2 separate regions of the Homo sapiens genome follow, and region 1 is linked to region 2. The links come from fine-mapping of genetic effects on gene expression. Tissue or cell type: whole blood. Region 2 holds a variant in brackets; the other region holds the start of a gene. All regions are shown on one strand. Distances are from middle to middle. Region 1 holds the start of STARD9 (StAR related lipid transfer domain containing 9). Region 2 overlaps STARD9 (StAR related lipid transfer domain containing 9).

Evidence for each region. PIP is the estimated chance that this variant, and not a neighbour inherited with it, causes the effect. A credible set is the group of variants that fine-mapping cannot tell apart.
Region 1: it holds the start of STARD9, and the variant in region 2 is the best candidate, but not a certain one, in a credible set for the expression of STARD9 in whole blood (INTERVAL, PIP 0.69).

Annotation. Positions count from the first base shown.
Region 1 is chr15:42,572,774-42,578,148 of GRCh38, forward strand. It overlaps STARD9 (StAR related lipid transfer domain containing 9), which reads left to right and starts at 2,833. Exons shown (of 33, transcript NM_020759.3): 1 at 2,833-2,989. The coding sequence starts at 2,943. RefSeq lists silencers at 2,341-2,970, 4,951-5,010.
Region 2 is chr15:42,698,412-42,703,786 of GRCh38, forward strand. The region is part of intron 26 of STARD9 (StAR related lipid transfer domain containing 9); the gene reads left to right. Among named protein-coding and RNA genes, the nearest start is that of CDAN1, 36 kb to the right of the region's middle. The variant G/A (reference allele first, on the strand shown) is at 2,657.

The sequences.
Region 1 (5,375 bases), 130 kb before region 2:
TGCTTAAAACTCTGTGATGCTAATCATCATAGCAGTTCCTCTCTTCAGTAAACTGTGTATCACAATAAAAAGTGATCTCTTGAGGTTCTTGGGTGTTTTTCACCGTATTCAGTGCAATATCATAAGCCTTGAATAACATCAGGGGACCAGTACCAAGTGCCACTAGTGATGCTGGAAGTGCTCCCAAGAAGCAGAGAAAAGTCATGACATTACAAGAAAAAGCTGAATTGCTTGATATGTACTATAGATCTGCAGCTGTGGTTGCCTACCATTTCATGATAAATGAATCCATTGTAAGGACCATTGTAAAATTTAAAAAAATTGTGCAGCCATGACCACAGCTACACCAGGAGGCACAAAAACCTTGAGCTTTTTGTGAAATACCTTTTTATAGTTTATTTTTATTTTTTAATTTGTGTAGAGATGAGGTCTCACCATTTTGCCCAGGCTGGTCTCAAACTACTAGGCTCAAGCAATACTCCTACCTTGGCCTCCCAAAGTGCTGGGATTACAGGCGTGAGCCACTGTGCCCGGCCCTGAAATGTCTTTTTATCTCATATTGAAAATGCAGCTTTTGGCAAGGTGCAGTGACTCATGCCTGTAATCCCAGCACTCTGGGAAGCCGAGGTGGGCAGATCACCTGAGGTCAGGAGTTTGAGACCAGCCTGGCCAACATGGTGAAACCCCATCTCCACTGAAAATACAAAAATTAACCAGGCATGGTGGTGCACAGCTGTAATCCCAGCTACTCGGGAGGCTGAGGCAGAAGAATCGCTTGAACCCAGGAGGCAGAGGTTGCAGTGAGCTGAGATAGTGCCACTGCACCCCAGTCTGGGCAACAGAGCAAGACTCTGTCTCAAACAACAACAACAACAACAAAACAACCAAAAACACACAACAACAACAACAAACAGAAAATGAAGCTTTTATGTGGGTACAGGATTGCTGTAAGAAAAACATACCTGGCCAGCGTGGTGGCTCACACCTGTAATCCCAACACTTTGGGAAGCAGAGGTGGTCAGATTGCCTGAAGTCAGGAGTTCAAGACCATTCTGGCCAACATGGTGAAACCCCGTCTCTACTAAAAATACAAAAAAATTAGCTGGGTGTGGTGGCACACGCCTGTAATCCCAGCTACTCGGGAGGCTGAGGCAGGGGAATTGCTTGAACCAGAGAGTTGAAGGTTGCAGTAAGCCAAGATCGCGCCACTGCACTCCAGCCTGGGCGACAGAGTGAGACAACATCTCAAAAAAAAAAAAAAAAAAAAAAAAAAAAAAAAGGAAAACATACCTATCTATATACCTATATACTCTTAATATGATTTGAGAACAAGCAAAGTCATTATATGACAACTTGAAGCAAAAGGAAGGTGAAGGATCCAAACAATTTTATGCCAGTAAGGGATGATTTGATAAATTTGGAAAGGTTTGGTTTAAAATATGTCAAGATAACAAGAGAAGCAGCTTCTGCTGACCAAGAGGGAGCAAATGAGTTCCTAGACACCATTAAGGAAATAATTGAGAAGAAAGGGTATCTGCCTGAACAGCTTTTCGGTGCATATGCAAGTTCCCTATTCTGGAAAAATAAATGCCACAAAGGACATTTATTAGTAAGGAAGAGAAGCAAGCACCAGGATTTAAGGCAGGAAGGGATACGCTAATATTTTGTGCAAATGCAGTTGGGTTTATGATCAGCACTGCCCTTATCTATATGGCTGCTAACCCTCAAGCCTTGAAGGGAAAAGATAAACACCAGCCACCTGTCTTTTGGTTGTACAAGAAGACCTGGACAATAACCCTTTATCTGAATTGGTTCCATCTATGCTTTGTCCCTGATGTCAGGAAGTACCTTGCCAGTAAGGGACTGCCTTCTATTTTTTTATTTTATTTTTTTTAGACAGGGTTTTGCTCTGTCGCCCAGGCTGAAGTACAGTGGCGCGATCCAGGCTCACTGCAGCCTCCGCCTCCAGGGTTCAAGTAATTCTCCTGCCTCAGCCTCCCGGGTAGCTGGAATTACAGGCGCACGCCAACAGGCCCGGCTAATTTTCGTATTTTGAGTACAGACGGGGTTTCACCAGGTTGGTCAGGCTGAACTCGAACCCCTGACCTCAGGTGATCTCGCTTCAGCCTCCCAAAGTGCTGGGATTACAGACGTGAGCCACTGCACCCGGCCTGCCTCGAAAATTTAACCACAGAATTGACAGTTCAAGCGAACGCAGAGAATAAAAGTATTTAGCAAATTACTTTGCAAACTTTCGGACCAAAAGTTGATTTACTTGACTTTACATAGCACGGACACCTAGTCGAGGAACAAAAACTATTTCTGGGTAAGCGGGGCCAGGAACAACAGACTTAGCACTGAGTCCTCGCGGCCCACTCGGCTCAGGATTGGCTGAAGCTGGGCCGGCACTGCTGGGCCCGGTGCGGCACGCGCATGGGTGGGGGCGTCCCAAGAGGCTGTAGGGCGGAGCGAGGCGGGGCGAGCCCGGGCGTCCTCCCGCCCACCGACTAGCCAAGGCTCGGCGGGCACCACCCAGCTCGGGATGCAGCGCGTGTTTGGGCGGGGGCGACCCGGGAGGCTTCGGATGGAACGAGGCGGAGCGAGCCCTGGCATCCTCCCGCCCACCAGGCTAAGGACTGGCCGAACGTCCACACGGGCCCGCCTGCTCTGGCTGCGGCGCGTGTTTGGGCGGGGGCGAGTCAGGAGGCTTTAAGGAGGATTGAGGGGAGGCGGGGCCGGGAGTTCTCCCGCCCACCGGGCTCAGGATTGGCCGAAGCTAGGCAGGCACCGCCCCGCTCGGGCGGCAGCTCGCGTCCGCGCGGCGGCGTCCCCAGAGGCGCGTGGGGCGGGCGGGGCTGGGTTGGGGCTGTGTCTGGGCTTAGGGCGGGGGCCTGGGATGCTGCCGCTGAGCTGACCCGCTGGACTTGGGTTGTGGCAGACGGATGGCGAACGTGCAGGTCGCCGTGCGGGTCCGGCCGCTCAGCAAGAGGTGAGTCTCCGCGGGAGAGGGCGCCTGAGGCTTCACAGGAGCTGAAAAGAGCGGGAGGTCCGCGTCTCCCCCTGCAGAGATTCTGGCGCGCAGAAATCGGTGACAAAGTGACCCGGGGGGTCGGGGTCCGGAATCCACGGAGGCCTGGCGGGACGGGACCTCAGTCGAGCTTTCGCGTTGTGTCCTGGGGATAGCGGTTCCCGGACGGCCGCGGGAGGGCTGCCCTGGGTGAGCGTCGCTGGCGTCCTGCCAGCAGGAGTTTCGAGGGACGGCGGCTCGAGGCTTGCTGCATCGGGTTGGGCCTTTGAGAAAGGCTGGGAGAGGGATGAGCATTCTCCTCTCTCTTTCTGGGGGCTTGGGAGTACCCATGAGGACTGAGGCTGAATGGTGTGTGTTTCTGGGTGCGCGTGGGCTTCTCTGCGAAGATGTGGAGAAAGCAGAAGGTGAGGGCGTGAGGGGGAAATTGAGGCCGACACAGGTCGCGGTTTCTTTCTATGCTCGACAGCTGATTTAATCCAGGACGGAACTGTTAAGTAGGGGAAGTTGTTCCAACCCCTTCTTTCTCTCAGAGCCCTCAGTGCCCGTTTTCTCGTGGCTTATTTTGATTCCGCACCTCTCATCTCAGCCCTTGAGACATCCAGTGTGCAGCCACGAACTTTTTTCTCTTTGTCACCAGATGAAGTGTTTTTTAAAGATCAATTAGAGTTTGTTGACAGGTGGAGAGAGTTTAAAGAGCCTTCTATGTAGTAAGACCGCCAAGAGCAAAGGACTTAGACTGTAAGGGACTAACTAGAGGTTAAGTTTTGGTGGGGAAAGGGTGGTTGGTGTGGAGGGAAGTGAGTGGTGGAAGGTAAATCTGGCAGAGGGTGCTTTGGGGACCAGGAGGCACATGTTGGAATTATTTGGCAAGTTTAAAAATCTCTGGGACATAAGATAGCTTGATAATTGGGCAGAAGGATCAAGAAAGGTATCGTCTCCCATAATAAAATTGGGTACTAGTGTGGATTATGTTCGTCCTCATATAGAAATGATTGGCTTTGAAAAGTCTTGTAATTGACAGACTAATGAGAAGAGCAATGAGATAGAAAGAAACAAAAAGTTAAAGAGAATAGGAAGAAGGCAAAAGAGGTACACTGAAGAAAGAGGGAAAGCAGATGCCTGACCTGCTGCGTTTTGATTGGTAAATGGCTTGTGACACCTGGCTTCTTCATAACTGGATGTGGTAGCTCAGGGCTGGGGGGGGTTTTATAAGTGCAGATGCTATGCTGGAGGTAGTCTCTGGTATATTCTGTATTTGTGAAACTGTTCTTTTAGGGTTCTCAGGATAACAGTATTGACCACTCCTAACATTCAGTAACTTCTCAGTTCCTTGGACACTAGGAATTTCTTTCTTTTTTCTTTTTTTTTTTGAGATGGAGTCTCGCTCTGTCGCCCAGGCTGGCGTTGAGTGGCGCGATCTCGGCTCACTGCAAGCTCCGCCTCCCGGGTTCACGCCATTCTCCTGCCTCAGCCTCCCCAGCAGCTGGGACTACAGGCACCCGCCACCATGCCCGGCTAATTTTTTGTATTTTTAGTAGAGATGGGGTTTCACTGTGTTAGCCAGGATGGTCTCGATCTCCTGACCTCGTGATCTGCCCGCCTGGGCCTCCCAAAGTGCTAGGATTAGAGGCGTGAGCCACTGCGCCCAGCCGGACACTAGGAATTTATAATAGCATGAATTAGATTAAGAAAATGATGCTGAAATTGGTTTACTTGCAGCCACAGTAGAGAATAACATACCAAACAAAAGTGAAGGGAAAATGAAAGCACAATTTATTTACTTTCAGCTCAAGTTAAGAGCCTTGAGCAGCAAGTGGTAGGATGTCAAGACTGTAGATACCCAGGTGTGAACAGATTGTAGCAGGCTGAAGATTCAGGAGCAGATACAGATAAACCCAGTGTGGCCCCAGCCAAGAGGTCCGGATCACTTCCCTCTTCTCACAGAATCCTGCAGAGATGGCAGCTGTTCTTCAGGGGGTGTTATACTGTCTTCATTGAGGCTTATCTGAATGTGGGGAATCTGGTGATTATGTGGTTTGTTCCAACCTTCAAATAAGTCATTGGCACACACTCAGTTGACAGTCATTGGATCTGATGTTGTGCTTGGGAAGAAATCTTACAGATGATCTGGCCCAAGCTTCTATTTTTTGTTTTTCCAGATGACAGAATGGTTTGGCTTAAGTTCTAAAAGTAGTAAGAGCCAAGATTTGATTCATTAGACCTACTGCTCTTTCTGAGATTACAGAAAAGTTGCATTTGTGTCTCAAGTGCCTATTTATTCAGTAGGACTAGAGTTGACGCTCAATTTTTTTTTTTTTTTTCTTTTGGAGATGGAGTCTCACTCTGT
Region 2 (5,375 bases):
GTGTTGAAAATTGTATCTCATTTTTCTCATATGCTTGAATATTTGTATTTTGTTTTTCATGAGCCATCTGTTCATATCCTTTGCTCTTTTCTCTTTTTCTCTTACCAATTTGGAGAGTTCTTTATATTTTAGTAAGAATAGCCGTTTGACTGATACGAACTAGAAATATTTTTTTCCCAGTGCTTCCTTCTCTTTTGACTTTGCTTATTTTGTTTGAGGCCATGCAAGCAGATATATTTGTCCGTTTTCCTTTTATGGTATCTAGGTTATAAATAATAACTAGAAACACATTCTTCAATCCACAATTATAAAGAATTTCTTCCATGGTTTCTTCTAGAACTTCTGTGGTTTTATTTTTCATATTTAAATCTTTGTTCCTTTTGGAGTCATTTTCATATGAGGTATGGATCCGATTGTGTTCTTTCCAGATGGCTATCTAGTTGTCCCTGTAATGCTTGTTAGACAGTTTATCTTTGCCTCACCAGTTTAAGGGGTCCCCTTTCCTTATACCAAGGCTTAGAATAGATTCTACCCTGCGGTAGTGTTAGTCCACCACTACCCTCATTGCTCTTCTCTTTCTGAGTTTACCAGAGTATTCTTTCTTGTTTATTAAAAAAAATTGTCTTATTTTATTATAATTGACACATAATGTAAATATTTATGAGGTACACTGTGATGTTTCAATCCACATATGCATTGCATAATGATCAAATCAGGCAATTAGCACATCCATCACTTTAAACATTTATCATTTCTTTGTGGTGATAACATAAAACCCTTTCTAGCCAACTTGAAATATACATTATATTGTTATTAGCTATAGTCACCCTATTGTGTAATAGAACACCAGAACTTATTCTTCCTTTCTAACTTTGTACCTGTTGACCATCCACTCCCCATTCCCTCTTCCTGATCCCCTCCCCAGCCTCTGGTAACCACTATTCTGCTTTCTTCTTCTATGAGATCAACTTTTTTCTTTTCTTTTTTTTTTTTTTTTTTTTGAGATGGAGTCTTGCTCTGTCGCCAGGCTGGAGTGCAGTGGCTCAATCTCGGCTCACTGCAAGCTCCGCCTCCCGGGTTCACGCCATTCTCCTGCCTCAGCCTCCTGAGTAGCTGGGACTACAGGTGCCCGCCACCACGCCCAGCTAATTTTTTGTGTTTTTAGTAGAGATGGGGTTTCACCATGTTAGCCAGGATGGTCTCGATTTCCTGACCTCGTGATCTGCCCGCCTTGGCCTCCCAAAATGCTGGGATTACAGACGTGAGCCACCGTGCCTGGCTAACTTTTTTATTTTCATTATTTATTTATTTTTGAGGCAGAATCTCACTCTGTTGCCCAAGCTGGAGTGCAATGGTGCAAACTTGGCTCACTGCAACCTCCGTCTCCCGGGTTCAAGCGATTCTCATGCCTCAGCTTCCCAAGTAGCTAGAATTACAAGCGCCCACCACCACACCCAACTAATTTTTGTATTTTTAGGAGAGACGGGTTTTCACCATGTTAGCTAGGCTGGTCTCAAACTCCCGACCTCAGGTGATCCACCTGCCTCGGCCTCTCAAAGCGTTGGGGTTACAGGCGTGTGAGATCAACTTTTTTAGATTCCGCATATGAGTAAGATCACGTGGTGGTTGGCTGTCTATGCCTGGTGTCTTCCACTTAGTATAATGTCCCTGGGTTCACCCATGTTGCCACAAATGACAGAATTTTATTCTGTTTTATGGCTGAATAGTATTCCATTGTGTATATATGCCACATTTTCTTTGCCCATTCATCTGTAAACATTTAGGTTGATTTCATCTCTTGGTTATTGTGAGTAGTGCTGCAATAAATATGGGAGTGTAGATATCTCTTTGACATACTGATTTCATTTTCACTGGCTATATACCTAGTGGTGGAATTGCTGGATCATATGGTAGTTCTGCTTTAGTTTTTTGAGAAACCTTCATACTGTTTGCCATAATGGCGGTATTAATTTACATTTCTACCAGCAGTGTATAAGAGTTCCCCTTTGTCGACATCCTTACCAGCATTTGTTGTTTTTTGTCTTTTTATTATAGTCATTTAGATGGAGCGAAGTGATATTTCATTGTAGTTTTGATTTGGATTTCCCTAAAAACTAGTGATGTTGAGCATTTTTTTCATATACCTGTTGGCCATTTGAATGTCTTTTTTTGAGAAATGTGAAATCAGGTTTTTGCCCATTTTAAAGTTGAATTCTTTGGGATTTTTTGCTATTATTTGAATTCCTTATGTATTCTGGATATTAACCTTTGTCATATGCATAGTTTGCAAATCCATTCTCCCATTCTGTGGGGTGTCTCTTCACTCTTTTTTCCTTAGCTGTGCAGAATCTTTTTAGTTCGATGTAACCTCATTTGTCTATTTTTGCTTTTGTTACTTGTGCTCTTGAGGTCTTGTCCAAAAATTCCTTTCCCAGTCCAATGTCATAAAGCATTTCTCCTATGTTGTCTTCTTGTAGTTTCATATTTTCTGGTGTAAGATTTAAGTTTTTGATCCTTTTTGTATATGGTAAGAGATAGGGGTCTAGTTTCTTGCTTCTGTATGTGGATATCCAGTTTTCTCAGCATCATTTATCACAGAGATTGTGCTTTCTCCCTTGTGTGTTCTTAGTGTGTTTGTCAAAAATCAGTTGGCTAT[G/A]AATGTGTGGATTTCTGTGTTCTTTGTTCTGTTCCTTTAGTCTGTGTGTCAGTTTTTATGCCAGTACCATGCTGTTTTGATTACTATAGCTTGGTAGTATTTTTTGAAGTCAGGTACTGTGATGCCTCCAGCTTTGTTTTGCTCAGAATTTCTTTGGCTGTTTGGGGTCTTTTGTGGGTCCATATGAATTTTAGGATTATTTTTTCTATGAAGAATGTTATTCGTATTTTGATAGAGCTTGCATTGAATCTGTAGATTGCTTTGGGTGATATGGACATTTTAACAATATTCTTCCAATCCATGAACATGGGATATATTTCCACTGATTCATGTCATCTTTAATTTCTTTCATCCGTGTTTTACGGTTTTCGTTGTAGAGATCTTTCACCTCTTTGGTTAAATTTATTCCTAGGGACTTTATTTTTTTGTAGCTATTGTAAATGGGATTGTGTTCTTGCTTTCCTTTTCAGATAGTTTGCTTTTGGTCTATAGAAACACTACTGATTTTTGTATGTTGATTGATAAATAAAAGTAAAATTCTAAGCCTCCAACTGACTGAACAGACCTCCTCTCAGCCAGGGAGACCCCAGAGAAACCTTAAAAGTTGAGTGCATGACCAACAGAAGATGTTGAAATAAATGCCCTGGCCAGGCACGGTGGCTCACGCCTGTAATCCCAGCACTTTGGGAGGCTGAGGCAGGCTGATCACAAAGTCAGGAGTTCGAGACCAGCCTGGCCAACATAGTGAAACCCCATCTCTACTAAAAATACAAAAAATTAGCCAGGCGTGGCAGCATGCACCTGTAATCCTAGCTTCCTGGGAGGCTGAGGCAGGAGAATTGCTTGAACCCGGGAGGGTGGAGGTTGCAGTGACCCGAGATCATCATTGCACTCCAGTGCAGGTGACAGTGTGAGACTCTGACTCAAAAAAAAAAAAAAAAAAAAAAAAGCTGAATGCATGACCATGACCTGATGGGAGGTTGGACACACCTGCTTATATCCCCTTCCTCGCTAACAGATATTAGGCATTCTTCCCTAAGGGCTAAACAGAAACCAGCCCTTTCAGCAGACTCCACACTGATAATGTCAGTTACTAGTTTATCTTCCCAGTTATAGAACAAAGACGATTAAAATTTTTTGTTTGTTTGTTTTTTTAGTCAGAGTCTTGCTCTGTCGCCCAAGCTGGAGTGCAGTGGCACAATCTCAGTTCACTGCAACCTCTGCCTCCCGGGTTCAAATGATTCTCCTGCCTCAGCCTCCTGAGCAGCTGGGATTACAGGCGCGCACCACCATGCCTGGCTAATTTTTGTATTTTTAGTAGAGACGGGGTTTCGCTATGTTGGCCAGGCTGGTCTCCAACTCCTGACCTCATGATCTGCCCACCTCGGCCTCCCAAAGTATTGGGATTACAGGCATGAGCCACCGCGCCCGGCCTGTTGTTATTATTTTTAATAGTTTTGTCTTTTATTCTTCATAGCAAAGATAGGAGTTGTCTATCTATCACAGTTATAATATTAGAGTTTTCTAAATTTGTCTGTGTACTTAGTTTTACCAGTGAGTTTTATACCTTCAGATGTTTGCTTGTTACACATTAGCATCCTTTTCTTTCAGATTGAAGAAGTGCCTTTAGCAGTTGTTATATAAGACAGGTCTGGTGTTGATGAATTTCCCCAATTTTCATTTGTCTGGGAAAGTCTTTCCTCTCTTCTTCATGTCTGAAGGATAGTTTTACTGGATGAAGTATTCTTGGTTGATGTTTTTTTCCTTCAGCACTTTGACTGTCATCCCACTCCCTCCTAGCCTGTAAGGTTTTTGCCGAGAAGTCTGCTGCCAGACCTATTGGAGCTCCTTTACTTGTTATTTGCTTGTTTTCTTTTTTAAAAATTACAGTTTAATTTAAGTGTTTTGTAGAAATGGGAGTCTCACTATGTTGCCCAGGCTGGTCTTGAACTTCTGGCCTCAAGCAATCCTCCTACCATAGTCTCCTAAAGTGTTGGGATTACAAGCATAAGCCACCACACCTAGCCTATTTGCTTCTCTTCTCTTGCTGGTTTAATGACCTTTTCTTTGTCCTTGACCTTTGAGAATTTGATTATTATATGCCGTGGAGTAGTCTTATTTCATTAAATTTAATTGGGAACTTTTTACCTTTCCATACCTCAATATTTATATCTTTCTCTAGGTTTGGAAAGTTCCCTGTTATTATTGCTTTGAATAAACTTTCTACTCCCCTCCGTTCTCATTCTGCACTCCCTCTTGAATGCCAGTGACTCGTACATTTGTTTTTTTTGTTTTGTTTGTTTTTTTTTTTTTTAGATGGAGTCTTGCACTGTTCACCCAGGCTGGAGTGCAGTGGCACAATCCCTGCCCACTGCAGCCTCCGCCTCCAGGGTTCAAGCAATTCTCCTGCCTCAGCCTCCCAAGTAGCTGAGATTATAGGCGCCAGCCACCATGCCTGGCTGATTTTTTTTTTTTTTTTGTATTTTTAGTAGAGACAGGGTTTCACCATGTTGGTCACGCTGGTCTTGAACTCCTGACCTCATGATCCACCCACCTCGGCCTCCCAAAATACTAGGATTACAGGCGTGGGCCACCGCGCCTGGCCACATTTGTTCTTTTGACACTATCACACAGATTCTTTAAGCTTTCTTTTGTTCTTTTTCATTCTTTTTTTCTTTCCTCCTCTGTATTTTCAAATATCCTGTCTTTGAGCTCACAG